Homo sapiens: one gene and its partners. The protein of the gene in region 4 interacts with the protein of the main gene of each other region in a pairwise test. Each region holds a gene or a part of one and is shown on either strand. Other genes may lie near its edges.

Region 1 (4,456 bases), on a different chromosome or scaffold from region 4:
ATAAAGTTTAATTTATAAATTAGGCAAAGAGATTAACAATTAAAAATATATAATATATAAAAGGATAATTATAACAATATACTGTAATAAAAGTTATGTGAATGTGGTGTCTCTCTCAATAATCTTATTGTACTGCACTCACCTAGTTTTGGACTGTGATTGAGACTAAAATTGAGGATAAGGGAGCGCTACTGTATTTAAAGTGAAAAAAATTAAAATTACTCATGAAGCTTGCATATTTCTACTGCCTAGTGTTACTGTAAGCCATTAATGTCAATCCCACTTCCCTTGCCAATAAATGGTCAGAGATATAAAAGGAAAGCAATTCTCACTCATAAGAAAACAGATTCAAGAAAGAAAAATTGAGGATAAGGGAGCGCTACTGTATTTAAAGTGAAAAAAATTAAAATTACTCATGAAGCTTGCGTATTTCTACTGCCTAGTGTTACTGTAAGCCATTAATGTCAATCCCACTTCCCTTGCCAATAAATGGTCAAAGAGATATAAAAGGAAAGCAATTCTCACTCATAAGAAAACAGATTCAAGAAAGAAAGATGGGAAGATAAGATCTCTTCTTTGTCTAACAATTTTTTATCTGGACATAGTGCCTGACACTTATACAGCCACCCTGCTATGAGCCAGAGACAAGAGAATTGTTGAAAACCAGCAGGGCAGTCAAATTCTAGGCTGAAGCATCCATTTCTGTATCTCTCAGTTAAATGATATAACAGATATTCTTATTGTTTTCTTTTGTTTTGAGACAGAGACTCGCTCTGTCATCCAGGCTGGAGTGCAGTGGTGCGATCTCAGCTCACTGCAACCTCTACCTCCTGGGATCAAGTGATTCTCATGCCTTGGCTTCCTGAGTAGTTGGGATTACCTGCGCACACCACCACAGCCAGCGAATTTTTGTATTTTTAGTAGAGATGTGGTTTTGCCATGTTGGCCAGACTGGTCTCCCCTGGCCTCAACTGATCCACCCACCTAAGCCTCCCAAAGTGCTGGGATTACAGGTGTGAGCCACCACACCCAGTCCTTATTGTTTAATTCATTTTTAGTTAAGGATTTTTACTTGTAGCAAATGCATCCAGATAATATGCATATGTCTTCTATGCTTTTGATCATGCTGTTTTCAATCACCTAAAAGCTTTTCTTACTACTCTCCATCCATCTAAACCTTTCTTAAATTTAAGCACGACTTTCTTGGAAACCTAGCCACAAGGATTTTTTCCCTTCTCTGAAGTATTTCACCTATCAATGATATCTTAAAATGTCTATGTTTATAATATACTATCTTGTTCTCACATTTTCCTATATTTACATAATTTTTGTCTTTACAACAAAACTGGAAATCCCGTAAAGGACATGAGAAGTATTCTCAATACTGGGCTTAAATCCTCACTATGTATCCCCAGTAGAGGTGTATTTAGAGGTGTACGCTCATAAGCAAATGACTCAATTTCTTTGAGCTTATGTTCAGCCTACATCTATCTATAAAATGTACAGTGTAGAAAAACATTCCAGCTTACCTTATATTTCACTGAAAGCACTGTCTTAATGATAAAGTACTTCATAATATTATCTTTTTTTTTTTGGAGATGGAGTTTTGCTCTTGTTGCCCAGACTGGAGTGCAATGGCATGATCTCAGCTCACTGCAACCTCCGCCTCCCGGGTTCAAGCGATTCTCCTGTCTCAGCCTCCCGAGTAGCTGGGATTACAGGTGCCCGCCACCACACCCAGCTAATTTTTGCATTTTTAGTAGAGATGGGGCTTCGCCATGTTGGCCGGGCTGGTCTCGAATTCCTGACTTCAGGTGATCTGCCTGCTTCGGCCTCCCAAAGTGTTGGGATTACAGGCGTGAGCCACCGTGCCCGGCCATATTATCTTTTATCCTACTTAATTTCTTTGAGCTTATGTCCAGCCTACATGTATAAAATATACAGTGTAGAAAACACTCCAGCTCATCTTATATTTCATTGAAAGCAATGTCTTAATGATAAAGTACTTCACAATATTATCTTTTAGCCTACATAAAACCTATCAGGGTTTAACTAAAGTGGAAGAGCAAATAGATGACTGTTCCTTCTATAAAGAGACCTAAGAAATAAATTAATTACATTTGTTTTTCTACAGTGGTTCTGAATCAACGCCCCTAACAATTCAGGATCTAACACTGAACTCAATCCATGCTTGAACAAAATAAAAGTCAGGCTTGTAAAAAAAAACAAGGTGAATGAAGTAAAGAACTGGCTACAAATATGAAAAGTACTTCCTCTACACTGTTACCCACATGTAAATAAATATAATGGGCTCCCCCCAGCGCCATTCAATGAGTGAACAGCAAGGTATATTCCCCTTGAGTTTAAGAGTTTCCAAACTTACTAGTAGATTCATAGGGACTATGAACATTTTCCAAGTGGCACTGAAGCTGGAAGGGAGTGGAAAACTGGCGGTAACAGTGCTGGCAGATAGTGTGACCATCTACCTCACCGTTCTGCTGATCGAGTTCTACGTGGTGTTTCATATGGTTCATGAATCTGTAATAAAGCACAAAGAGAAAGTACAGAAAACATAAAAAATTGGTAGCCTTTTAGAAATATAATGGTAAAATCACAGAACAAACATTATCTGCTCCCCTCCATTCCCCAGACTTCCTGTTTGGGATATCCTTTTCTGAGCCCAGAAAGATAATGAGTTCTTGAAACTAAGAGAGTTCTGGGAAAGGAGACATACTGCTTTCCCTTACTCGATCCAGTTACCTTTTGTTTATTACCACAATATCTCCTTCTATAGTCCTAGTTATTGATTTAATGATAACCCCAGCAAGACTGCATAGTAGTTAGGTCCATTCTCCAAAGAGAAAGACTTAAAATATATAAGAAAATGTAAGTCTTCTCTTGTTCAAGGTAACTTCCAAGGCTCTTAAACACTTACCGAATATTGTTTTTTAGCCTTTTGGTACAATGTGGGCATCGGAAAGATGTGGCGACCTTAGGGAAATTTGTGAGCTGGGCTACTTTGCCACCATCCCGTCCATAGTAGAAGTCATCTACAAGCATAATGAGTTTGGTCTGGACGGCATCGCCCACGTTCTCATTTGGTTCTGGTACTTTGGTAGGCGGTGACAGAGCAGGAATAGGTGTAGAAGAGGGTGTGGAAGCAACAGGAGCTGTTTTCTCAGGGGATGGGGGCTTTGCTGCTGATGGGACACTGGGTTCTGAATCCAGGGACTTTCCTTTCTTCTGGTATTCAACCATTTCTGGGCAACAGTACTATAAAGAAAGACATCTGATCATTCTGGTTATCCTGGGGGCTAGAATGTGCTAACTCCTTAACTTCACTACCATTCCTTGTTAACGGTTTGGTTTCAGGTATTCTCATTCAGCTTTCACCCTTCAGTTTTTTTTAGCGTTTCCAAGTTTTACTCCTTTTCTAGAGTATATCCACATATGCCACCCAAGCGCTATACTTTGTATTTCTCCCTCCTGCCTGTCTTAGGTCCCTTAATCATTAGTATAACTTGGCTCTGAGCTCCCTGGCAAAGAAGAAGTTCCAACCTTTTTATCTGGACTAATACCAAAAAATGAAAAGCTAAAAAATGGAAGTAAGAGCTCCCGATTCATCCAATGACACAATTAACAAAAATGAACTGAGGCCAATATGGTTTGAGTCCTTATTATCTATAAACCTGTTCTCCTGTGTGGTTTCAAAATCTACCACACTAAGAAAGTAAGATCACATATGTTCTGATCTATTTGAGGGTCTTTAAATGTATCCCATCACATTCCAAAGTACACAGCTCTTCTAAAAACAGACCAAGAGAAACAGTAACCCTTTAAAAAGCTTCAGTCATTTTAGAGCCCCTGCTTACAAGCTTCCAATATTAATGAAGGTAAATGGCAGAAGCCACTTAAGCTGGATCACAGGTGATATCACTTACACACATGTGACCTCTCAAAGCTTCAGTAACACGAAATTGAGCATTACATCGTGGACATATTTTCCGTCCACCATCCTGGAGGTCAAATACTGGGATGGAAGAGGTCACTGAAAGAAGTGAGAAGAATTGATAAGATTAATACAATGACACTGGAAAAAGATTACTGACCTTTTGGGAAAAAGTCAAACACTCCCTGAGAAGTATATAAAAGGGTAAGCAAGCATGAGAGATCACTATGGTTTTTGTTTGTTTTTGTTTTTTTTGAGACACGGTCTCTCAGTCTGTTGCCCAGGCTGGAGTGCAGTGGCACGACCACAGCTCACTGCAGCCTTGACCTCCCTGGGCTCAAGATCACTATGTTTGAGGCTTCCTTTTACTGTTCTAACTCTAGGCCAGGGGTCAGCAAACCACAGCACACAGATCAAATCCAGCCCAGCTACCAGTTTCTGTTTGGCCCATAAGCTAAGAATAATTTGTATGTGATTTTTTTGTTAAGGTTTTTGTTTTTTTTAATC
Region 2 (4,456 bases), on a different chromosome or scaffold from region 4:
CACTGGGCTTCCCAGTCCCTGTCAGCAGGCGAAGGAGGCCCCTTCATTTCCTTGGGTCCTGCTTATGCAGCACAGGCCACAGCAAAGGCTCCCTGGGTTGGGTCAGCCCTCACTCTAACTCAACATGCCCTGGAAGTCACCACAGGGTCATGGAAAGAGTCCTGGTGATGAGATGGAGTGTCTGCTCTGCCACAAGGGCTGTGGGACCAGGGTCGGGGCATACCTCTCTGGGTCTCAGTTTCCTCACTGGTAAGATGTGGCAACAGAATCTCATCTGTGAGCCCCCTCTAGCCTTGAACAACTCTGGATCCAGGTAGACCAGCATAATGAAAGCCTATGAAGCTTCTGAGATGTGCGAGGCATACATTGTCCCAGGTACTCAAGTAACTCAAGTCTGGAAGCTGCGAGCCACAGAGATCAAGCCTTCTCCAAAAATTGGACTGCAAGGCATGCCGTACAAACAGAGTGCTAGGAGACCTTGGGGAGGTGGGGAAGAGGAAGAGGAATCATGGACAGCTTCATGGGGAGGTGGCTTTGGAGCTGGGATGGGTGAGGACAGCTGGAATGTGGGCAGCACGTGACCAAGTGCTTTGCAGACATGGCATGGCCCCCAGCCAGGCCCTGAGGAAAGGAGAGTCTCAGGACAGCAGCTATGTCACTGTAAGCAGGACCCTTGAAAGCAGGTGCCACCTGCAAAAGGGGGAGCCCTGAGGCCCAGGCAGGCCTGTCACAGTGTGGGGCACCTGTCTAGACAGCCCCATGGCCAGCAGTGGGGGTGGGCCATGGGCCATGGGGACCTTCCTGGTATGGGGTACTGCCATGTCCCCAGGGAATATGGGGGGCCCAGGAAGGTCCCCAAGGCTCGAAGGACCCAGGTCTTTTCATACTGCCAAAGAGATGTAAGGCCTACAGAGGGGAAAGTTTGCATATCTGTGAAGGCATGGAGCCTAGGCATTGGAAGTGTCCAGTAAGCATTTTCATTTGGCAGAAGTATCTCCATGGCACTTCTACCTACAGCCCTGCCACATTTTGCCACAAACTGTCCAGCAGCCCTGAGATGGAGCCCCAGTGTAGACCGTCATGGAGCACACTGGCTCTGGAACAATGAGGAGCAGACTGGAGAAAGCCAGATGGGGTTTACCTGTCAACAGCCACAACATAGTTGTGCTGGGGTGACTGTTCAAGAAAAATGAACTTTGGTGCTCCTGCCGAATGGGTTGTTAGTGTTCAGTCCTTTTCCTACCACTGAGTTGTTTTGTCTGATCATTCTTCCTCCTGGTTCTGCGGGTCTGCCTTCTTGAAAGGGAAGAGCAAGACTCCAGCTCCCTGCCCTGTAGAGGTGCCTTCTACCTTGCTCAGTGTTGAAGCAAAGGAGCAAAGCAAAGCTTAAGTCAGAGATTTGGTGCTCAGCTAATCACAGAGACTTTTAAATGTCAACCAGGGTTTGCTATCAGGCCAAAGCTGGATTATTATTACCCAAAGTAGAAAATTGTGAGACAGAGGCAGGTGGGGAGGGAGGGAGAGAGAAGAAAGCAGAAGGTGGAGGATACGTGGATTTAATTTTTTAAAAATAAATATATGATTCCGTGTCAATTAAAAACAAGTACCCCAGGCAAGTCTTCCTGCAGTCCTGTCTTAGCCGCACACACAGCATAACTGCAAACCCACTTGAGCTCATTTTTGCTCAAAGACCAACTCTATTAAACCCTTAGAATGTTCTGGATTTCAACACACAGTCCACAGACAGCCATTCTATCAAAAGCTTAGTGTTTTCCCTATGACTGGGTTTTCTGGTAAGGTGAACTAAGGCATCCTTTTCCATTTCAGGCTGTGGTAACAGCAGATAACAGCCGCAGAGGTCATAGCCAGCACTTTCTATGCGTCCCTTCATTTAATCCCAGTACTCCTAGGTGGTAGATCTATTATTTTGTCCACATGAATTATTGAAAAGTCTGTCCTAAATTTTAAATGGAACGAAGTACTGGGTTGCAAGTTACTGGTGGCTGTTTCACAGGAAATACTACGACAATGGGACTTTGGGAATGTGTTCTGGAGACTCCACTCCTTGGTGACTACTACATGGAGCACAGAAAATTGTCTTGAGTGGCAGCTATGTGCCAGGTGAGGAGACAGGTTTTACTCACATGACTCCCCAGAAGCCCTGCAGCATCCCCATATTTTATAAAGGGGAAGTACAAGCCCAGAGAGACATCTGACTTGACTAAGTTCACACAAAAACAGCAAGGTCTGGGCCAAGATGGAAGCCCGGGCTTTGCCTTCTTCTTCTGCCTGCAGGGCAGGGGCTTTCATCCTGGCTTCACGCTGATTTCAAAAGCCTCTCATTCTCTTGACACCTCATGGCCCCTGAGTTTATCCCAAGAATAATAAGTTCTACTGTCCTCCTGGAGATGCCGAAGAATCAAAACTGCAACACACAGAGGGCCTGGGTGTGCGCGAACACTGTAGTACACACCGATGACAGCAGATTAAGCCATTTCTCTCTTAGGTGCGTCACCCAACCAGCTCCTGGACCCTTCTGCTGTGCTGCCCTGACAGTCACAATATGTCCTAGTGGACTAATTAGCACTAACTACCCATGTCACCCCAAGGCCATTTAAGAAGACAAATAAAAAAGACAAAACCAATGAGTATTGTGGCTGAAGATGACGAAAAAAAGTTAAAAGCAGGGAGGAATGAATTATTTTTTCTTTCTCAATCTCTCCCTCTGCTTAAACCAAAGAGAGGTTTTCATCTGAGAGCCCGGGAGCTAAGCAGCTACTTTCTACATGAAAAAGTGAAAACATTAAAATAAAATCCCTTTCTTTCAAGCTAACGTTCTAAAACTGAACCTCTGCAGAGGCTCCAAAAGAGAAATGCCTTGCTTTTAAGCCCCTGAGTGAGAGGGATCCTGAGGAAGTGGCAGAGGGGATGAACCTAAGCTTTGGGACATAACAACCGGCACCTCCAGTGGCCACCACTCCTAGCTATGCTGCCTGTGGATGGGGCCCCCAGTGCTGGCCCCTAACAGCATGGGGAAGCCTCCCCAGCCACTCTGAAGCTGTTCGCATCACATCCAAGATGAACCTAGGCAGGGAGGCTGAGTGTGCTTGGGAGATGCCAAGTTAGGGAAGTAAGTTCCCCAGGGTCCTTCAACTTGTGGTGCCTGAGGATAGCTGCTTTTTTTCCAGTGCAGATGGAGACACGGCAGCCTTGGGGGGATGTGTGAAAGTAAGGCCTCCCTCCCTCTGCCTTTCCAAGTGGCTGATCATCTCCTTCCTTCTCATAGCTACTTCTAGGAGAGGCATCCAGGCAGGAACCACTTCTCCATTTCACAGATGGGAAGACTGAGAACCATACTGGAAAGGGGTGTATTTTAATTAAACTGGAGAGTGGGGAACACTGATGAGGAAAGCAAGCTGATAGACGGAAGGCTCTGCCTGTCACTGCCAGCACGGGCACTTGGGCCTTCTTATCAAGGGTTCTGATGGGAGTTTCCACTAGGATTCCAGGTGTCGATCATCTAGTAGCCGAGTTCTGATGAGCTGGACTTTGGGTGGTTGAGGTAGGGAGCAGTGGAAAGGGGAATTGGAGTCTTATCAACCTCTTTGAACACCAGTTCCTTCCCCTCTCTTCTATAAAAATGTCGTAGCAATACCTGCCTGGCAGAGTTGTGAGAATTAAATGAGATGATGAATACATCTGCTCTCAGCACCACACCACACCTGTGGCAGTCCTCAGAGAGAAGAATCACAGCTTTCATTCATTGAGAGCTCACTAAGTGCCAGGTATGCTCAGCTCTTGTGCAGACGTTCTTTTTCTTTGGATGTAAATGTGACATGGGCAGAGCAGGAGGAGCTGTGAGGCTGGCTTGGCTGAGCCACAGGGATTGCTGGCATCTTATATGGCATTCAGGACTATGGAGGGTCCACGGGAAGAAACACAGAAACAGAACCCAAGTATCCTTCGGGGACTCTTGGACTTTCTTCCCCTTGATCTTAGACATGCCTCAGTAAACAGATGCTGGTTTCTATCGAGACTCATTCCTGGGGAAGGACCCCCACCAGCCAAGCAAGGTAAAGCCCAGACTCAGTTACATGAATTACAGGTTTAAGACAGAAGCCTTCCTATGAATATTTTTCTGGCCAGTGGCTTATATAAGAGAAATTTGCTCATTGTATTTCTATCTGGCCAACGAAGGGGTCTAGAGGGGCTTTCAGCAACCCAAACAGTCTTGTCAGCCCTAACTCTGGACCTAAGGAAATAATTATGAATCCTCAAGATCCATTTAAAAGTGTCATTACTGTAGATAAACAAAGACGAGTGGATGCTTCTTCCTACTCCACCTCACTGCAGAGATTCCATCCATCCCAGGGTCACTGACCACTGACTGGATGAACTAGGATTGGTGTGGCAGAGTGGAGTTTTCAGGAGCCAAGAGACTCCTGGATTGTCATGC
Region 3 (4,456 bases), on a different chromosome or scaffold from region 4:
AAAATGTTGAAAACTGAAAAATTAATCACTATCAGCACTGATACTAGTAATGGCAGAATGCTAGGGTTTGACAGAGAAAAGCAGAGCAGAAAATTATTTTAAATAGGATGTGATAGTGAAGATGAGGAAGTTAAAAAGATCTAGCTCTGCTGTCCAATCAATATACCATTTACTGGTTAAAAACAAACAAAAAAACTATCAGTCTACTTTCAAATTTTTTCAAGAGCTTTTATAAACCAAGAATCATTTCTTTTCAAGAACACCATCATATTCCCAGATGTACAAGAAATTAATTGCCCTCTCTGTATGTAATATACCAAGAGAATCAAGCTTCTCTTGGCTTGTATTCTATTCAAAAACCATCCTATGATATTGCTTACTGTCCTACATTTTTAAGGCTTTTTTTTTAAAGTGGAAATTTGGTTTCTTAAAGAGCATTAATTAACTCGACTGTTAATCCTATTTGGAAAGCACTAAAGTTATAATTATTTATAACTGGCATCACCTCATTCTTTTCTAAATGGGAGTATAATCAGATGGAAGAGAGTAACATGTCACCATTGCTCAAAGTATCAAAGAAAAGGAATATTTTTCTTTTCTTTACATATCACATTTCCTTAAAGCTAAGAATTACAAAACCAAAAGCTAAAGAGAATATTTCAATACTCCCCAAATTATTTATCTGTAAAAATGACATTTTAGCAACCTCCCTTCCTACTCATCCCCCAGATTCTGCAAGTTATCTTTAAAGGTTAATTATGGTTTTGTTCATATTTTTAACAATTCTACAGGCAATACTCTTAGCTAACTTACAAAAATTGTCATTAACTACACAGGATAAATTATTTTAATTTACAGGTATTTAAAAGGAAATTCTTAAAATATTCAGGTGTCAAAAGAACATAAATTGTAAAGTGACTCACTGTAGTTATCCATACTGAATACTTCCCTTATACAATTCTAAGTATGTAAAATAAAGTTAAACAATACGACTAAATCAGCTCACGTAAAATAGCCTTTCAAATCTTCTATTTTAGTTCAACTTCTTTTCATCAATATACTTTTTGAGACCTAAGGGAACCCTCTTTTTTTTTTTTTTTTTTTTTTTTGGAGATGGAGTCTCGCTGTGTCGCCCAGGCTGGAGTGCAGTGACTCGCTCTCTGCTCACTGCAAGCTCCGCCTCCCGGGTTCACGCCATTTCTCCTGCCTCAGCCCCCGGAGCAGCTGGGACTACAGGCGCATGCCACCACATAAGGGAACATTTTGACACAAGTTCTAAAACTTACAGTATTTACGGTATTCGATTATTAAAATCTACCCAATAAATACCAGGATAAAATTAGCTGCATTTCATTTCTATCACTTTTTCTAATCTTTGAATAGGATTCAACCTCAGGAAACAACACAGTCAAAATGAAGTCACTTTAGTAAGCATTGACAAAGGCACAGAAATTCAATCTCCAGATAATATAAACAGAAGTAGGTAGCTGTGCTCTAGCACTAATCTACGTTCAAGTGGCTATAATGTACCTTCTTTTATTTTCTATCACTACCCACTGTTTGTCAACCATATTCCTAATTTGGTAAATAAAAAGTAGACAGATAATAGAAGCACCAAGTGATTAAGGAACTGGGTTCTCAAGTGCTTAACCTATATGACCCATTTAGAATATGCTGCCTATAGTGAGACTGTCATCTCTTAGATAGCAAACCAAAAACATGTTGCTTTGAAGTGGTGTAATGAATTAAAGGGGAAATTCTGGTATACTTCACTTGAAAACTCACAATTACAGAAATCAGTCCCCCATTTATTCCAAAGATCAAAATTTCTATGTTGAATCTAATCTGATAGTAAAGCAAATACAATAATGGTACTTTCGGTAGCAACTAACACAGTATTAGCCCAGAGCTGTCAAAAATCTATTCTGATGTGGGTTTACATAAATTCCTTTAGCAACTGCATGCAACTAACACCATACACATGCCAAGACAATGCTCTATGATTAATTGAAAAAAAAAAAATGAAAAAAAAGCTACTTCATTTGCCAAGCAGCAAACTATCAAACCTTTGGTTACTGTGAAAATAAGTAACAGAACCAGGTCATATGATCATGCCCCCAAAAACCTGAACCTAGCAGCCCCTCTCCCTCCTATGACATGGCAGAAAAGAAGGATCTTTCTGAAACACTTTTTTTTTTTAATTACACATATATTTTAAAAAGAGATATAGAAGTTAGCTTATATCAAAATTGACTTAATTAATGTCTATCTTGAGCAATATATAACAAATTTGTCAAGATCCCTTTGCACAGTGAGAAAATCAGACAACTACTATAAGGTAATATTGTCCCAGAAAAACCAAAATAAGAACACCGCATTAAAAGAAAGGTTGCAATTCCATTAACACAGACCTTCATAAACATCTTGGATCAAAACTACTTGTTAATTATTTAAATATTTCTCCAAAATATATCTGGGAGCTTAAGAGGCTACTTACTGCTACATGTAATAGTAAAGTATAAATCAGATCATTAATTTAAATCAATATTATAATCAAAGCCATTACTTAAATTCCAAGTGATTGTGCATACCTGTTTAATACCTGTTTACCTATGAAAGATACTACAGTTACTTTTAATGTTTACTTACTTGGAGTTTCCCCCCAAGTGACTACACATAAATAAGCAATGATTAGGAAAACTCAACTTGCTGACTACATCTGATTCTAGAACTCACTTGTGGAAGCCACAGGAATGTTGGGAAAGTTGGCAGTGCTGGTAGCATTAGACTCAGATGGGGCTAACAGAGCTGGGGTGCTGTATGTCTCTGTCGATGCACGATTACTTGGTGGATGCTGGATGGTTTGAATTGAATGTCCTTCAGTGGACAACGATGGCTGTCCCTCAAAGTCATGCACATATTCATCCTTCACCATCATACTTGATGGAGCTATATAGAAAATTAAACATATTTTAAATTTTTATAAGCTTCTATTCCCAGAAAAAAAAATCTTATTAGCAAGTAATATAATAACACCTAAAATCAATTACAGTGTAAATTACTAACCTTAATTCAGAATTTTTTCATATTATTTTAAAAGCATACTACTTTACCAGCAAAAGTCATTTATTCAGCGGTAACAGCATGAGATATATTTTATCAATCAATCTGACTCTCAAATTTGAAGCTAGTCTATGTTTCAACAGCCTCCAGCAACAATCCTAAAAAGGTACTCCTCAGTTTCTTGATAAACCTAGAAGAATAATCACCTAAATACATAAGGCAGGCAAAAACCGAATGGCTGGAAAATGTGTCCAGCTGAGAAAAACAATTATTCGGTCTAAATAGAGACTGAGTATTTAACTATATCTTTTTGTTAATTTCACACTGTGGAGATATGAGTGGGATCTGATAGATATCCAATCCCAGGATCTAGAATTATTGTTAAGCAACATATTCTTTAAAAATGAAGTGTACTGAATGTAATGTCCCCTATAGGTTTAGAACCAAACGGAAAAATTATAAATGAAAAGTCAAACTGAAATTTCCCTCTAGAAACCCAACCCAAATAAGAGTATTTGATTAATATATGGTGTGAGAAAACTCAGTAATCAACATCTTTCACCTATGTGATTACACCTTCATAAGCAAAGCTAGATTCCAGCTGATACAGCATAACATCTTTCCATTAACCAACCAGGAAATAGTTAGCTCTGCTGTATGACAAAAAGAAAACTGAAACTGAACTGCATTAACAATGTTAATTCTCTGCCCAGAACCTTCCCATTTGTTTTTAGGTTATTGTTTTAAGGTTTGCTTTTTACCTTTAGCAACCAATCCTTTATTGCTTCTAAACTAACACTACTCCAGAACTTAACAATCCACTGAACTAACAGTAGGTTCTCTTCTTAAAGCAGTCAATTAGTAGACCACAAAAAGACATTCCCTTTTTCATTAAGAACCAGCATATCATTTCCCTTATCTTTCCCTATGTCAACCTTTGAAAAAAAATCTACTACATGTAAATATCAGTTAAGTTACATGGGTACTTTTTATTAAATTGAGACTAGTTTAAGGCAGTAATAATCATCCATTGTGCAAGTTTCTATGTACAACCTCTTAAAAACCTCTTAAGAAGTATGTTCATGCATCAAAAGTCATGAAGATGATATTCTGAAGACCTATAAATCCCATTCCAAAGTTCCTCTTTAGAAATTTTATGGAAACAAAAAGATAATCAAAAGGATGCGTAACAAATTATGTATCAATAAAAAAAACTGAACACAACCACTCATCAACATTGGCCAAGTTATAAAAATAATAAAAAGAAAAAAATTGTTTGGGGCACAAAATTGGTATGTCTACACTTATTCAGCCTTATATTACACCCTTCAACAAAGTTCAATGATTTTCTTCATATAAATCCTGACATCTCTAATTAATTCCTGGACATCTT
Region 4 (4,456 bases):
TACTTCCTAAGCAATGTGAGAGAGACAGGCACTGTGGCAGGGAGACAGGACAGCTTAGCAGGCCAACACTTGAGGTCTGTTCACATGAATTTTGCTTTGTAGGAGAGTTACTAACTTAATCTTCATGATTCAGTTTCCTCATCTATAAAATGAACCTTACAACAGAATCTGCTTCATGGAGTTTTTATGAGGATTAAATGAGATAATGCACTCAAAGCATAGTGAAGACTGGCAGTTGTTACACTCAACATCCACCTTCCCTTCCTTTCTAACAGCCCCTGCATTATGGAGGGTGGCAATGTGCCCAGCTAAACAATTATGCTATTCTCCCTTGTAGATAGAAATGGCATCAGATGTCAGCAGAAGTTGTGTGTTGGGAGGGAGAAGGGGCAGCGATCAGGAGGCATGATCTTTTGCTATTCCTTTTTCTTCTTCTTGCTTGTCCGAAGATGTGATGCTCACAGATGTAATGGCTGGAGTTACAATGGCAACTATGAAAAAAATCTTGAGGACAAGAGCCACATGCCAAGGATGGCAGATTAGAAAGGAAAAAGGAGCCTGGGATGATGTTGGCACTGTGAGACTCCATAAGATCCTGAACACCCTACTGTGGACTTCTTTTATGTGAGAGAAAGGACACCACTGTCTTACTTAAATCTACGTTATTTCAGGTCTCTTCACCAGCAATCAAATGTAATCCAAACTGATCCAACAGAACATTTTGTATACTGCATAGCACCAAATAAGTTCTCCATTCCCCAGAGATGTTTGTTTATCACTGTTAAAAGGATTGAGCATTCTTCTGCTCTTAGCAATGCCCAAAGGTTTATTAGAAGCCATCCATTTCAACCTCCAGGTCAGCAGTTCTCAGCCTTCTCACCTGGGAGCCATTTGCAGCTCTCCTTCAATGCCCAAGACAATTTAATCAGAAGCTCTAGGTTGAGATCCAGGCATCTGTGTTTCTTAAATCTCCTCAGAGCATTCCAGTGTGTAGCCAAGGTATAAAAACACTGCCCTAAGCAGATAGAAGAATCCCATCTATTAAATTAAGGACTTCTGATTTTAAACTTTAATTTATTTTTTGTATAAACACTCAGGAAAACTCAGCAATTAGAGCTGGCAAAGAACCTCAATCAAGTTCAATCTCCAGGAAAATTAGCCAGGAAAAGGCAAGTTCCATTCCAGCACTAGAACATTTGAGACCCAAAGTGGTTAGGTGGCTTGCTTAAGGTCTCTCATCTAATTATCTGTAGAATGGAAAGTAAAACCCCTGGCTCCTGCCTACAAGTGCTTGTCCCCAGTATCACACAAGCGGGACAAGAGGGTTTCAGAGAAGGCCTCCCCATCCCAGGTAGGCTCACTTAGTTGTCAAGCAGTTCTACAAAAATGAGAAAACTAGAGTGTTATTAAGCATTTCATAAAGGTGAGAATTATGTTAATGTTCATAATCAATTAGCCAACTTTGGTTTGGTTGGCTCAGAATAAGAAATAGGTGGACATCTTCATTAAGTGGGAAGATAAACTACTTTAGAAAGATGTCAAAGGGGGAAAAAACACTTTGTAATGGGAAAGTTAAAAGCAAATATTTATAAGACTTCTTTATGAATTAAATGTCCACATATTTAATGAACAGCTGTAGGCAAACTTGATTTTTTTTTTTTTTTTTTTTGGTTCCTCATGAAAGAACAGAATCCCAAGTGTGAATTGGGAGAGAGCTTTCAAAACTTCTGAGTCAGTAACTTTGGGGACAAATCTGGCATTTTCTTTAGTAAATAAATATAAGGGGCAGGAAGTAAAATATCCATCAAGAACATCATCTGCTTTTTTACCAATTAAATCTGTGTATTTGGTTGATGTTTGTCCTTTATTTCACCTCCAGACAGTGCACGTGAATTTGTGTCTCTCTTTTGGATTCTACTTGCCCTTAACAGCAAGAACTGCTTAATTGGCCAGGCGTGGTGGTTCACACCTGTAATCCCAGCACTTTGGGAGGCCAAGGCAGGTGGATCACTCGAGGTCAGGAGTTCGAGACCAGCCTGGCCAACATAGTGAAACTCCATCTCCAATGAAAATGCAAAATTAGCTGGGCATTGTGGCATGTGCCTATAATCTCAGCTACACAGGAGGCTGAGGCAGGAGAATCACTTGAATTTGGAGGCAGAGGTTGCAGTGAGCTGATCTTGCACCACTACATTGCAGCCTGGGTGACAGAGCAAGACTCTATCTCAAAAAAAGAACTGCTGAATCAATGGAATCAACTTGGTAAGAAGTAAAGGTGCTCACTAGGCTTATTAAATAAGCAAAGGTTGTAACATAGAATAGAAATATTAGAGGTTGTCCAGAAACCTAAATTACCTCTCATTGTAAGTTGTGCTTAAATTTATGTAGGAGATAGGCTTCCAAAAATTATATGCATAGTACACATTTTACTTATCTTTAACTGCCTCCCAAACAATATTGGCTCTTTAGTGGAACCCTAGAGTACATCTGAAGAGCAGAGTTCTATGTTGATGAGAATTTTAAGTCCTTAATTTTTCTGTTTGCTAAATCTCTGCTCTGTTCAAGTTGTCTGAAAGCAAAGGCATATCCATGACATAATAATCTGATACGAATTATTTCCTGTTCCAAGGCCAAGTCCACAGGACACCAAGACAATCAGCCAGTCCAAAGAAAATCAGTCAAGCCTGCCTTTCATTAGCATGTAGATTGTTCCCTAATACAAACAACAACAATAAAAAGCAACTGTCCAATTTGTTCACTTTCTAACAAATGGAGTTCAGTTTATTATACACAGTTCTATCACTTTTAAGGAAGAAATTCAATCAAATCAGTTTGGGGCATTGTACAAATTATTTAATGAATTGGCTGCAAGTTTTATTTCCCATTGGTGTTGGCAATGTACAACCCCAGGATACTGAGTATCTTTTTTTTTTTTTTTTTTTTTTTTGAGGCGGAGTCTCGCTCTGTACCCCAGGCTGGAGTGCAGTGGCACGATCTCGGCTCACTGTAAGCTCCGCCTCCCGGGTTCATGCCATTCTCCTGCCTCAGCCTCCCGAGTAGCTGGGACTACAGGGGCCTGCCACCACAACCCCAGCTAATTTTTTTGTATTTTTAGTAGAGACGGGGTTTCACCATGTTAGCCAGGATGGTCTCGATCTCCTGACCTCGTGATCTGCCCGCCTTGGCCTCCCAAAGTGCTGGGATTACAGGCGCCCGCCACCGCACCCGGCCTGATACTGAGTATCTTAAGGAAATGAATGCCTGAAGAACCAAGCAAATCATCTCAGACCAGAGGTTGGCAATGTTTTTCTATTATAAGCCAGAGAGAAAATATTTTAGGCTTTGTATGCTGCACAGTCTCTGTCACAACTACTCAACTCTGCAAAAGCAGCCCTAGACAATATTCAAATGATAGACAGAGCTGTGTTCCAATAAAACTTTATTTACAAATGGAGTGGCAGGCCTGATTTGGCACAGAGGCCATAGTTTGCAGACCACTATTTTAGACCCTTGGAAAATTTTGCAATATCCTATCACCCAAGAATATTTAGACTGTGGCTTTTTAACTATTCTAATCAAAGTGTGGAAAAGAATATATGAATTTAACATAACACTGATCATTCAAGATGGGCCCACAGGTGGTTTCCAGGACGGAAGGTACTAACTCATCCCTACCACTACTTATCAGGAAACTTGCTATCATTTTACCTACATTCTCTACTTTAATTCTCACAAAAACCTTGGGAGGCAGACATTAGAATCCCCACTTCCCAGATAAGGAAATGAATGGAAATTTCCTTCTCACAAAGAAAGAACTAAGTTGCACAGGCAACTTTCAGACCTGTCTCCCTCCAAGGTTCCTGCTATTTCCACTACACTGTTACTAGCTGGGGAGGGATGGTAATTCTTCACATGTGCACCTGACCAGCAGGTCCAAGTCCAGAACCCAGGGAGAGAATCTACAGATGGAGTGACTTCTTCATCCAATTGGCCCATCAAGCAAATCTCAAATCCATTGGTTGGGGCTTGAAGATTTCTACTTCTCTGTGCCAGCAGTTCTGGGCTTTGTCACTTTATGCTCTAATCTTAACCAAAAGCCAGGGTTCACATTTAGTCCACAAACTAGGGTCATGGGCTAGGTAGGGAGGAGGTAACATTCACAAAGTGAATGTTTTCTTAACCCTTTCCAGAACCCCATAGTACAGTCATTTCAGCTCATGCCTCGAGGGTGTTTTCTGAAAAAAGAAAGTGCCCTTTCAGCACTCTTGGTGTCTGATTTCAAACCCTGCCCTTCCATCGGGTGACTCTAAGTGGGCTGACATGCTGCCCTGTTTTTACTGATTTTCCCACACGGTTTAGTCACCCAGGTGCCCTCTATACCACATACTTGGGTTCAGGCTAAGGGGGTGGGTCCAGAGCCCAGGGTCTCTCCTACTTTTCCTTTAAGGCTTAAAGG
Region 5 (4,456 bases), on a different chromosome or scaffold from region 4:
CCCTAGGGAAGGGGAAGGAGCCTGCGTGAGTCACAGGCCTGGGGTGGGAGCCCAAGAGTGAGAAGGGGCGGGAGGAACCTCGTTACCAAGGTACCAAGGCTCAGTGCTCTCTCAGCCCTTGGACTGAGGCAGGCCTCCTGAGGACCCTCTTCCAAGCGCTGCCCACTTCCCTGGCTGTTCTGACAGGTGCTTACCTTTGTACTGGGGCCAGTTGGGGACACGGAGAATGGGGAGGTCTTATTTTGGGGGTTCTGCAAAGAGAAAGTAGGAGCAAGGGGATGGGAATAGTGCAGTGAAGCAGCTTCTGACCACCCCCGCTCCCTGCCCTCCTACCATAGGCGGCACAGAGCCCCCTCTGAACCCCTCTCCCCATTCCTTCCCACCCCCTCCCGCTTATCCACTCCCTCCTAACCTGATGATTAGTGTCTGGTCCATTTCTTTCGGTGTCTGCAAAGAGAGGGAAAGGATGTGTTGTCATCAGCCACCCCCACCACACCTGTCCCCTCCCAGCTCTCTTCCCATCTGTCCCACTTCCCCTGCCCACGGTGACCCCTGCCCCCCTGCTCCCTGCCCACCCACCTGTGTGCTCTGATGGGGAGTCCAGACCTTGCTTCTCGGCCTCCAGGGGCTTAGACATTCTTATTTCTGGGGACAGAGGAGGAATGGAAGTGGGGTGAAGGAGGGGAATCCAGGAGGGCTCTCGGGCCCCCATTCCACCACACTCCCCAAGCCTTTCCCCCAAATTCCCCCCTTACCCCCAGCCACCTTGGAAGTGTCTCTTCCCAAGAGACATGTCCTCCGTTCTGGGCCTCTGCCCTCCTCTGGCAAGATGAGACACAGCACTTAGGCCTTGGGGGATCTTGCCTTATCCTTTCACCTCTCCAGAAAGTAACACAGGGGTGTTACCCACAGTGCAGCAAAGGGCAGGGCAGGAGATGGAAGGTGGTCGTGAGAAGGTATCAGCTGCCCAGGAGGAGGCTGGTGACGTCCCAAAGGAGGGAGAGCAGCCTTGGGCCTCCTCCTGGGGCGGGCCGCCCAGGCTCCCGTCCTGCCCTACCAGGTTTCGGGTGAGACATGTTTTCCACTCTGAGTGGGGCCTCAGAGATGTGATGGGGCTGCAGCGTCCCCAAAGGAGGCAGTTGTCAGATCTCAGCATGTGTGATTCAGCCGCCCTCTGGCCCTCTTCCCACCCCACCACTTTCCCCATCCACATCTTACTCCCACCTGGACTTTCTTCCTATGTTTAGCACACCGGCCTAGCAGACCCAACCTCATCCTCTGTAACCTCAGCTCCATCTGGCTCTACCCCTGAGCTTGTCCTCCAATCTAAACCTGATCTGGGACTTCACGCTTGAGCCCCAGCTGCAGTCTCAAGTCCACCCCTGTAATACAACCCCATTCTATAGCTCCCTAGGCCCAGGAAATGAAAGGAGGTGGCCAAGGGAGGGTGGCAGGCAGCAAGCACATAAACCCACGGAGACAAATGCCTGTCCTCAAAGCGCTCTGATACTTTTCACAGAAAGGCGAGTGCTCACCAGTGCCAAGCATAGAGCTAGATATGACTCACAGCTCACATTAGCGGTTAGTGCTAATATTACCCCGTTTTACAGAGGAGGAAACTGAGGCTCCACGAAGGGATGTCACCTCCCCAAAAGCACAGCAAGACAGCAGATGTGCCCTGATTGGACCCCTGGTCTTCATGACTGCTGGGCTCCTACTTCTAATCGGATCCACTCTAGTCTAATGTCCCCTAGTCCTGACTTCCAGCCATCTCATCTCCAACAGTTCCCTCGCCCAAGCTCATCCTGAAACTGAATCCAACCCTTCCTGGTCCTAGACCCCAGGACAAATCTGGGCTTCAGCCTGACCCATCCTTAGTCCACTTACTCACCTTGAATCCCAAGTTGTGCCCAGATGGCTCAAGTCCTTCATCTGACCTTGACTCCCAACTGTCCTGAGATCCTGTCCCTGATCCAAACTCTTCCCACAACTCACTCCAAAATCCCTGCCTAAACCATGACCCCACTCCTACTAAAGGAGCTGTCCAACTCTAGTGTTCTCTGCACCAAGATACTTAAAGAAGACAGCTAAGCCAGGCACAGTGGTTCACGCCTGCAATCCCAGCACTTTGGGAGACTGAGGCAGCCAGATCTCTTGAACCCAGGAGTTCAAGACCAGCCTAGGCAACATGGAGAAACCCCATCTCTACTAAAGACACAAAAATTAGCTGGGCATGATGGCACGCACCTGTAGTCCCAGCTATTGGGGAGGCTGAGGCAGGAGAATCGCTTGAATCCAGGAGGTCAAGGCTACAGTGAGCTGTGACTGCACCACTGCGCTCCAGCCTGGGTGACAGAGTGAGACCCTGTCTCAAAAAAAAAAAAAAAGAAAAAAAAAAAGAATGGAGCTAAAGTAAGGGATAAGAAATAGGAAGAACTCAGTAACTGTAAAAAAAAAAAAAAGTCTAGAAATCTTGCAATTGAGTATTATTCAATGTGAAATGCTGCTTGAGTTTTAAATTCCTAATTAAAAAAACAGGTCATGCATTGCTGGTGGGAGTGTAAATTGATACAAGCACCACTCAGAAAAGCTGAAAAGATGCCCTCTCCCTAAGATGCAGCACGTCCACTCCTGGGCATCTGCCCAAAAGAAACACGTGTCCTGCCCATCAAAGGACATGGGCAGAATTCTTCTGCAGTCTTTCATAATGGCCCCAAACTGGAAACAGCCTAAGGGGCCGTCAACAGGTGAATGGATAAATAAAATGTGGTATGTCCATACAATGAAATATGCCACAGTAATGAAAAAGAACAAACTCCTGCTTCATACACATGGCCGAAGCTTGGAGACATGAGGCTGAATGAAAGATGCCAAACACAAAGGCAGACATAATTTATGATTCCAATTACAGGAAATTCAAAAACGGGCAAGCTGATAGCAGATGATCACAGTCAGATGAGTGAGCACCTTGGGGGTACTGACTGGGAAAGGGCATGAGGAAGCCTGCACCAGGTAAGAAAGGATCTTGTTTGGTGGTTACAGGGTCCTTACATAAGCAAAAATTCATCAAGCTATACACTTAAAATTTGAGCACTTTACTCTATATACGTTATGTTTTAACAAGCAAGAAAACATTTAAAAGCTAAAAAGCAAAACGCCAGCACACAGTCCCATTAAGATGCACACTGCACCAAGGCAGGTAGATCACTTGAGGCTAGGAGTTTGAGACCAGCCTGGGCAACATAGTGAAATCCCCGTCTCTCCAAAAAATAAAAAAGTTAACCGGACATGATGGTGGTGGGCACCTACAGTCCCAGCTACTCAGTAGGCTGAGATGGGAAGGTCGCTCGAGCCCAGGAGATTGAGGCTACAGTGAGCCGTGATTGTACCACTGCACTCCAGCTTGGATAATAGAGCAAGACTCTGTCTCAAAAAAAAAAAAAAAGATGTAGACTGTTGAGGGTGGGGGTGGGGAGTGGGTGCCCAGGACGCTACCAGAGTTCAGGTCCTGTTTCCTGGCCCTGGGGACAGGGCATTAAATGGCTACTGATACAAGATATAAGAAGGACAAGAAGGGAGCTGGGCAGCAAGTGTGTCCTGACTTTGGAGCAGTAAAGGCGGGAATCCTGCCTGATCCTAGCTCTAGTTCACCCAGACCTTAGCCCTACTTCAGGCAGCCACTAACTCTAACCCGGTCCTAAATCCCACCCCTCCTAGCATCCCTAAAACTGCAGCCCCAGCCTCCTCTGGCCTCCGTCCCTCCAGCGGAGCTCCACATTGCCTCAGGGCAATCCTTTCCTGGCTCCTCCCTATCTCCTGGAGAAATAAACAACCTGGCCTCCAGGGGCTGGCCCACCACCCTGTACTGCTCTTCTCTTGCAGCTCATGCACAGTGCTCTTCACCCATGTCGAGCATCTCCCCCTGCTTGGGGGTCTGCTTGACAGCAGGCTGTGCAGGTTCTACACTCCCACCTAGCTGGGCATCCCTCTCCCGTCCACAGAACAGGGCAGCCTCGGACCCCACTGCCAGCCCAGAAAGTCCACACTCATCCTTAACCTCTGCTATGGGCTAAGTTGCATCTACCAAAATTCATACACGGAAGTCCTAATTCCTGATACCTCAAAATGTAATTGTATTTGGAGATAGGGTCTTTAAAGACGTAATTAAGGTAAAATAAGGTCATTAGGGTGGACCTTACTACAATCTGACTGGCATCCTTATAAGAAGAGGGGGCGGGCGCGGTGGCTCATGCCTGTAATCCCAGCACTTTGGGAGGCCGAGGTGGGCAGATCACCAGTTCAGGAGTTTGAGGCCAGCCTAACCAACAATGTGAAATCCTACCCCTACTAAAAATACAAAAATTAGCCGGGCATGGTAGTGTGTGCCTGTAATCCCAGCTACTCAGGAGGCTGAGGTAGGAGAATCACCTGAACCCAGGAGGCAGAGGTTGCAGGC
Region 6 (4,588 bases), on a different chromosome or scaffold from region 4:
CCGAGCTGCTCCTGACCCTGCTGCCCCGCCTTCCAGCTGTGGGAATGTGGCAGCCATCTTGGAGCTGGACGAGCATCTCCAGAAAGATTTCATCATCTTTGAGGCTGCTCCCCAAGAGACACGGGGCATCCCCTCCAAGAAGCCCGTGGCCGACTACTTCCTGTGACCCCGCCCGGCCCCTGCCCCCTCCAACCCTTCTGGCCCTCGCACCACTGTGACTCTGCCATCTTCCTCAGACGGAGGCTGGGCGTGGGGGGGGCTGTCCTGGCTCTGCTGTCCCCCAAGAGGGTGCTTCGAGGGTGAGGACTTCTCTGGAGAGGCCTGGAGACCTAGCTCCATGTTCCTCCTCCTCTCTCCCCACTTGAACCATGAAGTTTCCAATAATTTTTTTTTCTTTTTTTCCTTCTTTTTTCTGTTTGTTTTTAGATAAAAATTTTGAGAAAAAAAATGAAAAAATTCTAATAAAAGAAGAAAAATGGTTTTTGGGTTTGTGCCAGACTTGGTTGGGAATGCACAGGGTTGCTGGCCTGGGACCTGGGGTGGACGTCAGGGCCTTGACTGCCTCAGGGCCCCGACCTGCCAAGAGGGCCAGGCTCAGGCCAGTCAGCTTGCCCAGGGCCTCCAGGGGCCGCTGCCTGCTGGCTTCCCCAGCCCTAGGGAGAGGGCTCTGTTCTCATGGGCAGCCTTATCTTATTAACAGCATACACACACAGGCACACACAGAATCACAGGATTCTGATTTCTCCATTTTCCTGAAGAGGAGATGGGCCTAGAGGGCCAGTGGATTTTGTGCTAGGTCAGGCAGCTGGAAACACAGGTCTAGATCTGGGCCTGGGTCTCCTAGCAAAGCCTTTGCTCACCCAGCCCCGCCCAGGGCCAAACACAGGAGCCCAATGTTTCCTGAGCATGGATGGCTTTTGAGTTTTATTAACAAAAATACTCTGGTCCCAGAACAACAGACTGGTGTGGCCTGCACCAGTGTGTGTGGGGGGGTGGGGATTGAGCCCCTCCAGAGCCCATGGGGAGGCCTGGTAAGTGGGGATGCTGGTCTGTGGCCCCATTTGGCCAGGCAGAGCCCCTTCCATTCACACGGAGGTGAGAGCCGGGAAGGGGAAGCCGGCCCCAGCTGGACTCCCAGCAGCCTTGGTTAGGCTTTGAAGCCAGAGGGGGGTGGGAGTGAAATCAAGGTGTGAAGTTGAGGGGGTGGGTGGGCAGGCCCAAGGCGGCCATTTGGTGTGGGGGATGGGGCCGGTGGAGGTGAGGGGGCTCCAGGGCTGGGGGAAGGGAGCGGGAGGTTTGTGATGGAGGCAGAGGGGCCCAGCAGTGGTTCAGTACATGGGTTTGGAGCCCACATCCAGATAGCCCCCAGGCGCGGTGTATGGTAGAGGGAAGGGGCCCCCTTGGAGAAAGTGCGGGGCAAAGGGTACCGCCGGTGGAGCCGCTGGGTACCCGGAGCCCCCTGACCCGTGCGGCAGCTCCAGAAATGCAGCCGAGTAGGGGGCTGAGCGCCCGGAGTCTGGAGCCTCCGGGAAGCTGGGGCTCCTGACATGGAGAGAGGGATGTCAGAGCAGGGCAGAGGGACCCGCAGCCCCGCCTGGTCCCCTGTCCCACTCACCTGGTGGGAAGGTGACTGGGGGCCCCATGGAAAGCCGCAGGGTGCAGGAGGTAGGCCTCAGCACTGGGGCCACCACACAGAGGTGCCGGGGCAGCGGTGGCTTCCCCGGGGGCTGGGGCCTGTTCTGGATCTGATTCACGAATGTCTCCACCCAGGGTGGAGTCGCAGGGACCACCTGGTGTGTCTGGGGAGAGGGAAGGGAGAGGTTGGGCTAGGGAGGATCCCTGTCTCAGGCCTGGCCCCATCGCCATCGGGACTACACTCACCTCCGCTCCCATAGGCCTCTGTGGCTGCTGGCTCTGGGCCCCGCAGTTTCCTCTTCACACGGGCGTCTCGCTCCCTGGGGAACAGTGGTGGTGATGATGATGATGATGGTGATGGCCATGGTGATGGTAACAGTACTTACCCGGTGCCAGGCATTTCACCCTCCCAGGGACCCTGTCAGGTAGGGGCCATCATTATACCCATTTTATAGATGAAGAAACTGAAGGCCAGAAAATTAAATAACTAGAAAGTGGCAGAGCTGGAATTTTGTCCCTGCTCAAATTTGTCCATGCTTTCCTATTGTGTTTAGTATCAGTGGAAACTCCTTCCCAGTGGCAAGGCCAGGGCACAGTCTCACCTAGCTCATCTTTCTGCCCCATCTCCACTCTCAGCCTCTCTCTGGAATCCTCTTCTGTCCCCTCTTCACGGGCTGAACCTGTCCTTTTTCTTTTCATTTTTAAAATTTGAGATGGGGTCTTGCTATGTTGCCCAGGCTGGAGTGCAGTGGCACAGTCACAGGTCACAGCTCACTGCAGCCTCCAACTCCTGGGCTCAAGTGATCTTTCCATCTCAGCCTCCGAAAGTGCTGGGACTACAGGCATGAGCCACCAAACCTATCCTTGCCTCACTGCAAGCGCAAGTTCCTCAAGGAAGTCCTCCCTGACCTCCGAGAGCACACACCCCTCCCTCATAACATCCGTCACAGTTCTGCTTTTGCATTTGATGGAGTGACTCCTTGGTTCATGTCTGTCTCTTCTGACAAACTGGAAGCTACTTGAGGGCAGGGGCCAGCTCTGAGGTGCTGCACTTGGAACAGTTCCCACGGCCTTACGGAACCTTTACTGTCCGACATAACCTGGCTTCCCCTCCCCTGCCTGACTCTTAGTCACTCCACTGCAGCCACGCCACAGGCACAGCCCCACCTCAGGGCCTTTGCACGTGCTGTTCCCACTCCCTAGTGTGCTTTGCCAGATGCCCACCTGGCTCCCTCCCGTACTTCCTTCAGCTCTTTCTCAAGTGTCTTCTTCCCACTGAGGCCTTTCCAGGCCTCTTATCTAATACCTCACCCCAGTCCTTCCTATCTTTTCCTGGTTTATTTCTCTTCTCCTTTTTCTTTTTTTTCTTTTTTTTTTTTTTTTTGAGACAGAGTTTTCTTTTCTTTCTTTTTTTTTTTTTTTTTGAGAGGAAGTTTTGCTCGTGTTGCCTAGGCTGGAATGCAATGGCATGATCTCGACTCACTGCAACCTCCACCTCCTGGGTTCAAGAGATTCTCCTGCCTCAGCCTCCCAAGTAGTTGGGATTACAGGCGTTTGCCACCATGCCTGGCTAATTTTTGTATTTTTAGCAGAGACAGGGTTTCACCATGTTGGCAGGCTGGTCTCGAACTCCTGGCCTCAGGTGATCTGCCCGCCTCAGCCTCCCAGAGTGCTGGGATTACATGCGTGAGCCACCACACCTGGTCTCTCTTCTCTTTAGAATGGCTTCCTAACAGATGACATTTTATTTATTTCTCTTGTCTGCTTGTCTACTCTCCCCACTAGAAATCAGCTGCATGAGGGCCGGGGCTTTGGTTTGCTTTGTTTGTTTTATCTCCAGTGCCTGGAACTGTCCCTGGCACATAGCAGGTACTATATAAGTATTTGCTGAGTCAGTGAATGAATGTTTTCACTTACCACTGCATTTCTGATGTCCAGCACGGTGCCTGGCACACAGTGAGTGATTAATAAACATTTGTTGAATGCATGAACAAATGAATGAACAACTCCCACCTCTTACAGTTTCTGCCGTTCTCCCGGAAGCCTTTGGCAAAGGGATTGGCTGCAATCTTCAGTTGTGTGATCTGGGGACACACATGCAGGGTCAAAGCAACTGCGGTCTGGGCAGGGGGCCACCACCCCCTCAAGCAGGGTCACTCACCTGTGGGTTCTGGTAGGCTGTCACGGAGATGAATGTGGTCTCGGGGAAGCGGAAGGAGGCCATGCCCCCCCAGTGCTGGCTGCAGAGCTGGGCTGCCCGAACTAGGTGTATGCGGGGTTGGTACTTGTGCATGGAGTGCAGGATCAGCTGGGAGGGAGGAAATGGGAGTGATTCCCTGCCCTGCGCCTCACCCTTGGCCTCCCTTCCAGCACCCCCCAACCCTATCCTGGAGTCCCAGCCTGGGCCTCACGTGGCCGTGGGGGTCCAGCGTGCTGTTGGTGAGCTTGACACGATGGAAAGACACAGGCTGCCGCATCCAATGTGCACCAGTGGCAGGAGAGTCGGGGTGAATGTAGACACGGTCAGGCAGGCGGGGCTCTGCCTTGCCGCTGGGCTCCCAGCGCCGGCCCTGCCAGCGGTAGCGAGCCCCATCCACCGGAATCACATCCAGAAGAAACAAGTAGCGGGCCTCGGGGTCCAGGCCAGTGACTGACACTCGGCAGGCAGGGAACATGCGCCTGTGCAAGGGAGGGGACAGGAGAGGCCTGGAGCTACCCACTGGCCAGGGGTGGGCCCAGCACCAGTAACGGGACATAACAACGGGCTCCCCAGAGCTGTCAGAGAAACATCAAAGGAGGTGGAATTAGAACCCAGAGGGCAGGCTGGAGGCTGTGGCTCACACCTCTAATCCCTATACTTTGGGAGGCCAAGGTGGGAGGATCTCTTGAGTCAGGAATTCAAGACCAGCCTGGGCAACATAGAAAGACCCCATCTCTACAAAAAAATTAAAAA
Region 7 (3,447 bases), on a different chromosome or scaffold from region 4:
TATGATAGGGTGAGGTTATACCAATTACAATAATTCTTGGAAAGAAAATACACTTTCATAATTAACCTAGGAATATCATTTGATCTGTCACCATTTGCTTGCTCTTACAATAAAAAGAAAGAAATTTTGAATGGATAGAAGAATTCATTACACATTCAGAGTGAGTTGACAAATGTGATCTGAATTAAATAAAACATATATGCTTGATATATAAATATAAAGACATGTTTAGTAGGTATTCCTTTTTGTTGTTGACTTAAATCTGAATACTATCTAAATAAAAGGAAAATGTTGAAAAATATCAGATTACTAACCATTTTGCAGTTCTTTTCATTTCAATCTAGAATTATTCTTCTTTGGAGCTATCGATGTATTTATCTATCTGCATGCATGTTTATGAGGTATATGAAAAAACATAGATTCTCAACCAAGGAGATAGCTTCTCTCATTGACATCATCACTTACGTATAATTGAGTTTCATGAACAAAACAGAACCATATTGTGTTTGAAAATAGAATGTTTTATTGGAAGATAAACAGATAATTCAATCAGCTTTAAAAGCAAAAGTAGAGAATACTAGGATTATTATAGAGATGTGGGTATACAGAGAAAAAAAATTGCCTGAAATTCTGAGATGTTAAATTCTTTTGTGCAAATAGCTCCAGCATGATCTTTGTTGTCCAATGATTGAAGTCAGCTCTGGGAAAGTCCTCTTATAATTTCACACATTGTGTTGCTGGGGCAGTAGTTTAATAGAATCCAGAGAATCCATATCCTCCATAGTATGATGGGCGGTAGCAGCCATATCCGTAGCCTCCGAAGCCAGAGCCATATCCATAGCCTCCAAAGCCAGAGCCATATCCGTAGCCTCCATAGCCACAGCCAGAACCCAGTCTGCGGAAGCTGCCACATCCACAGCCATAGCCATAGCCCAGGCCACCAAAGCCTCCACAGCCATAGCCCAGGCCTCCATAGTAGCTGCCGTAGTAGCTCATGGTGTCAGGGGTAGTGAGTTTGGTTTGCTGCTCAAGGCAAGGTCCTGAGTGTGAATGTTGACATCTGTGCAGGCATGCTTATATACCCTGACACATCACGTAACAAAACACTTGCTGCCTATTTTAGTGTAGTTGTGTATGTTACACTTACCTGACCCAATCCTGACATCTGAAGAGGCCCTCAAACTCATTAAAGTGTTTGAGCTTGCATTGCTGTCTTCTCATGCTGTCCCTTTAACATATTGCATCACTTTTATGAGAAGAAATTGCTGTAGCTTCAAAGTCTGTGCATACCAGACCTTAAATAGACTTCTTCGTAGGCATATTGCATTACATAGTTGGTAATGCTATGTTTTGAAATTAAATATTGCTTCATCTCTGGCTTTCCTTGAATTGTTTTACTCATTTATGATTAAATAACAGACTTTGGTTAAATTCAATGCTCTGAAATTTATTATATTCTTCCAGAGGTATCTATTACCTCAGGTGAGGTCCCTTTTTAAAGAGAAGCAAACATTTGAAAGACTGGAGCCATCTGCTCACCTGCTATGCCTAACAGTAAAGAATTTCATGGGGTTAAAAAAGTTAAAATAAAGCCATCATTCTTCTATTACTCTAGAACATTGGCCATCATAACCAATATTCTCTTTTTTTGGTTTTACTCGTTTAAAAAATAAAAACCATTTTGATTTAACAACACAACAGTATATTGCTCAAACATTAAAGTCAAATCACAGTAATCAAAAATCTATTTCCTAAGCAGCTTTACAAACTGTTCAAAATTGTTTTCACATCCCGACTCCCTTACTGGCATATTAGACATCCAAGGTGCTACCAAAAATACAGATTGTATTGCCCTCCTCCCATTCATTCCTTTTTCCTGATCCACACAATTATCCTCTTTTCTTTTCTTTTTTTTTTTTTTTCTGAGACAGAATCTCGCTCTTTCGCCCAGGCTGGAGTGCAGTGGCGCTGTCTCGGCTCACTGCAAGCTCCACCACCCGGGTTCACGCCATTCTCCGGCCTCAGCCTCCGGATTAGCTGGGACTACAGGCACCCGCCACCACGCCCGGCTAATTTTTTTTTGTATTTTTAGTAGAGACGGGGTTTCACCGTGTTAGCCCGGATGGTCTCGATCTCCTGACCTCGTGATCCACCCGTCTCGGCCTCCCACAGTGCTGGGATTACAGGCATGAGCCACAGCGCCCGGCCTCCTCTTTTCAATATATTCTTTCAGTTCCCATTAGGGTCTGGGACTAGGTGAGATGGTGAAATATATGCAATTCTTTTTGCCTCCCATCCATTTTCATTTAATACTTACTTAAATTCATATATATATATAAATAAAATCTTCGATTTTTCAGATATTTTTGCCTTTATGTTACCTTTACCTATTGTGTGTTTCTTTTTTTTCCTAAAAGAAAATAGCTAACTAAGCTTTACTAAGATGTTAGGTATTTATTAAAGTGTTAGATGTTAATAGATGCCATCGCCAAAGACCCTGGGGAATTCAGTAAGAGACTGTTAGCATTGTGAATGTCTTAGGAATCCCCTAAAAATATGTATAATATAAAAAGACAGGATGAAGGAAATAATAATTAAAGACAAAGAGTACCTCAGCTGACTCTAAGAATTTAGTCACCTAGACCCAAGGCTGACCCCAAACCCCACCCACATATGCCCTTAACTTTAAGCTTAAATATATAATTTCTTGTTTAATTTTTATTACTTTGAATATACTGTTAAGCTTTTGATGAGTTTATAAGCAATTTTGAAATTGTGCATTTCTCCAGATAGATTTGCTGGCTGCAGTTCAATGACCAGCATGCAATAGAAACTCAATATATAAGTGTTGAATAGATGAATGAATTCTAGTTCTTACAGGTAAAAATCTTACATCTCATAGAAATGAACAATACTACGAATGTATCCAACAATAAGAATTTAAAAGAGAAATTAGCTCAAATAGCTTTCTTTCTTTAGAGGAACAAATAACCTATCATTTCATTTGCTTTTTGTTGCTGTTGTTTAAGGCATATTTAAAAATACTTAAATCTTAAGTATACAAGTTGGTGATATTTTTCTTATATTTATAGACCACCTATAACAAGCACACTCTAATTCCCAAAGTCTGGCGCTTGACTCTACCAGTCAATATTATTCCTTGTAGAGTAACAATTAACATCCTACATAAGGCTTTCTTGTTCTGTACTTCACTTAGGTGGTCTCATGTAGTATACTGAAACTTCCCATTTCCATCCCCAATTCTTCTGTGTGTCACTATTAGGTAGATCTCTGTCGTATGTGATGTGAATTTTGTTGTTTTAATTTCTGAAAAGTAGTCTACTACATGAATAGAGCACAACTGATTTATGATTCTGCTCTGGTAGGCCTATATTTGAGGAGTTTAGTGGTTTCAGTTTTGGTTTGGTTTGGTTTTTTATTGCTAGA

Evidence for each region.
Region 1: the proteins of POU2AF1 (region 4) and POGZ interact in binary tests that used the Homo sapiens proteins (3 or more experiments, as listed by UniProt).
Region 2: the proteins of POU2AF1 (region 4) and PAX8 interact in a two-hybrid assay, tested with the Homo sapiens proteins (one large-scale study listed by BioGRID and IntAct).
Region 3: the proteins of POU2AF1 (region 4) and SMAD4 interact in a protein complementation assay, tested with the Homo sapiens proteins (one large-scale study listed by IntAct).
Region 5: the proteins of POU2AF1 (region 4) and POU2F2 interact in a two-hybrid assay, tested with the Homo sapiens proteins (one large-scale study listed by IntAct).
Region 6: the proteins of POU2AF1 (region 4) and TBX6 interact in binary tests that used the Homo sapiens proteins (3 or more experiments, as listed by UniProt).
Region 7: the proteins of POU2AF1 (region 4) and KRTAP19-3 interact in binary tests that used the Homo sapiens proteins (3 or more experiments, as listed by UniProt).

The regions. Positions count from the first base shown.
Region 1 is NC_000001.11:151,421,014-151,425,469, forward strand, and holds part of POGZ (pogo transposable element with ZNF domain), read right to left. Parts: intron 4,049-4,456; coding exon 3,942-4,048; intron 3,274-3,941; coding exon 2,936-3,273; intron 2,539-2,935; coding exon 2,384-2,538; intron 1-2,383. UniProt on the Homo sapiens protein: Plays a role in mitotic cell cycle progression and is involved in kinetochore assembly and mitotic sister chromatid cohesion.
Region 2 is NC_000002.12:113,268,187-113,272,642, forward strand, and holds part of PAX8 (paired box protein Pax-8), read right to left. Parts: intron 1-4,456. UniProt on the Homo sapiens protein: Transcription factor for the thyroid-specific expression of the genes exclusively expressed in the thyroid cell type, maintaining the functional differentiation of such cells.
Region 3 is NC_000018.10:51,053,274-51,057,729, reverse strand, and holds part of SMAD4 (mothers against decapentaplegic homolog 4), read right to left. Parts: intron 2,950-4,456; coding exon 2,737-2,949; intron 1-2,736. UniProt on the Homo sapiens protein: In muscle physiology, plays a central role in the balance between atrophy and hypertrophy. When recruited by MSTN, promotes atrophy response via phosphorylated SMAD2/4.
Region 4 is NC_000011.10:111,372,468-111,376,923, forward strand, and holds part of POU2AF1 (POU domain class 2-associating factor 1), read right to left. Parts: intron 1-4,456. UniProt on the Homo sapiens protein: Transcriptional coactivator that specifically associates with either POU2F1/OCT1 or POU2F2/OCT2. It boosts the POU2F1/OCT1 mediated promoter activity and to a lesser extent, that of POU2F2/OCT2. It recognizes the POU domains of POU2F1/OCT1 and POU2F2/OCT2.
Region 5 is NC_000019.10:42,121,932-42,126,387, forward strand, and holds part of POU2F2 (POU domain, class 2, transcription factor 2), read right to left. Parts: intron 2,364-4,456; exon of another isoform or gene 2,248-2,363; intron 996-2,247; exon of another isoform or gene 794-995; coding exon of another isoform or gene 766-793; exon of another isoform or gene 756-765; intron 646-755; coding exon 580-645; intron 448-579; coding exon 413-447; intron 252-412; coding exon 195-251; intron 1-194. UniProt on the Homo sapiens protein: Transcription factor that specifically binds to the octamer motif (5'-ATTTGCAT-3'). Regulates IL6 expression in B cells with POU2AF1. Regulates transcription in a number of tissues in addition to activating immunoglobulin gene expression.
Region 6 is NC_000016.10:30,084,897-30,089,484, forward strand, and holds the end of TBX6 (T-box transcription factor TBX6), read right to left. Parts: intron 4,315-4,588; coding exon 4,047-4,314; intron 3,944-4,046; coding exon 3,797-3,943; intron 3,720-3,796; coding exon 3,649-3,719; intron 2,054-3,648; exon of another isoform or gene 1,956-2,053; coding exon 1,882-1,955; intron 1,800-1,881; coding exon 1,616-1,799; intron 1,543-1,615; coding exon 1,329-1,542; 3' UTR 897-1,328; downstream 1-896. Other genes in the region: PPP4C (serine/threonine-protein phosphatase 4 catalytic subunit), read left to right, coding at 37-166. UniProt on the Homo sapiens protein: T-box transcription factor that plays an essential role in the determination of the fate of axial stem cells: neural vs mesodermal. Acts in part by down-regulating, a specific enhancer (N1) of SOX2, to inhibit neural development.
Region 7 is NC_000021.9:30,490,962-30,494,408, forward strand, and holds KRTAP19-3 (keratin-associated protein 19-3), read right to left. Parts: upstream 1,053-3,447; 5' UTR 997-1,052; coding exon 751-996; 3' UTR 501-750; downstream 1-500. UniProt on the Homo sapiens protein: In the hair cortex, hair keratin intermediate filaments are embedded in an interfilamentous matrix, consisting of hair keratin-associated proteins (KRTAP), which are essential for the formation of a rigid and resistant hair shaft through their extensive disulfide bond cross-linking with abundant cysteine residues of hair keratins.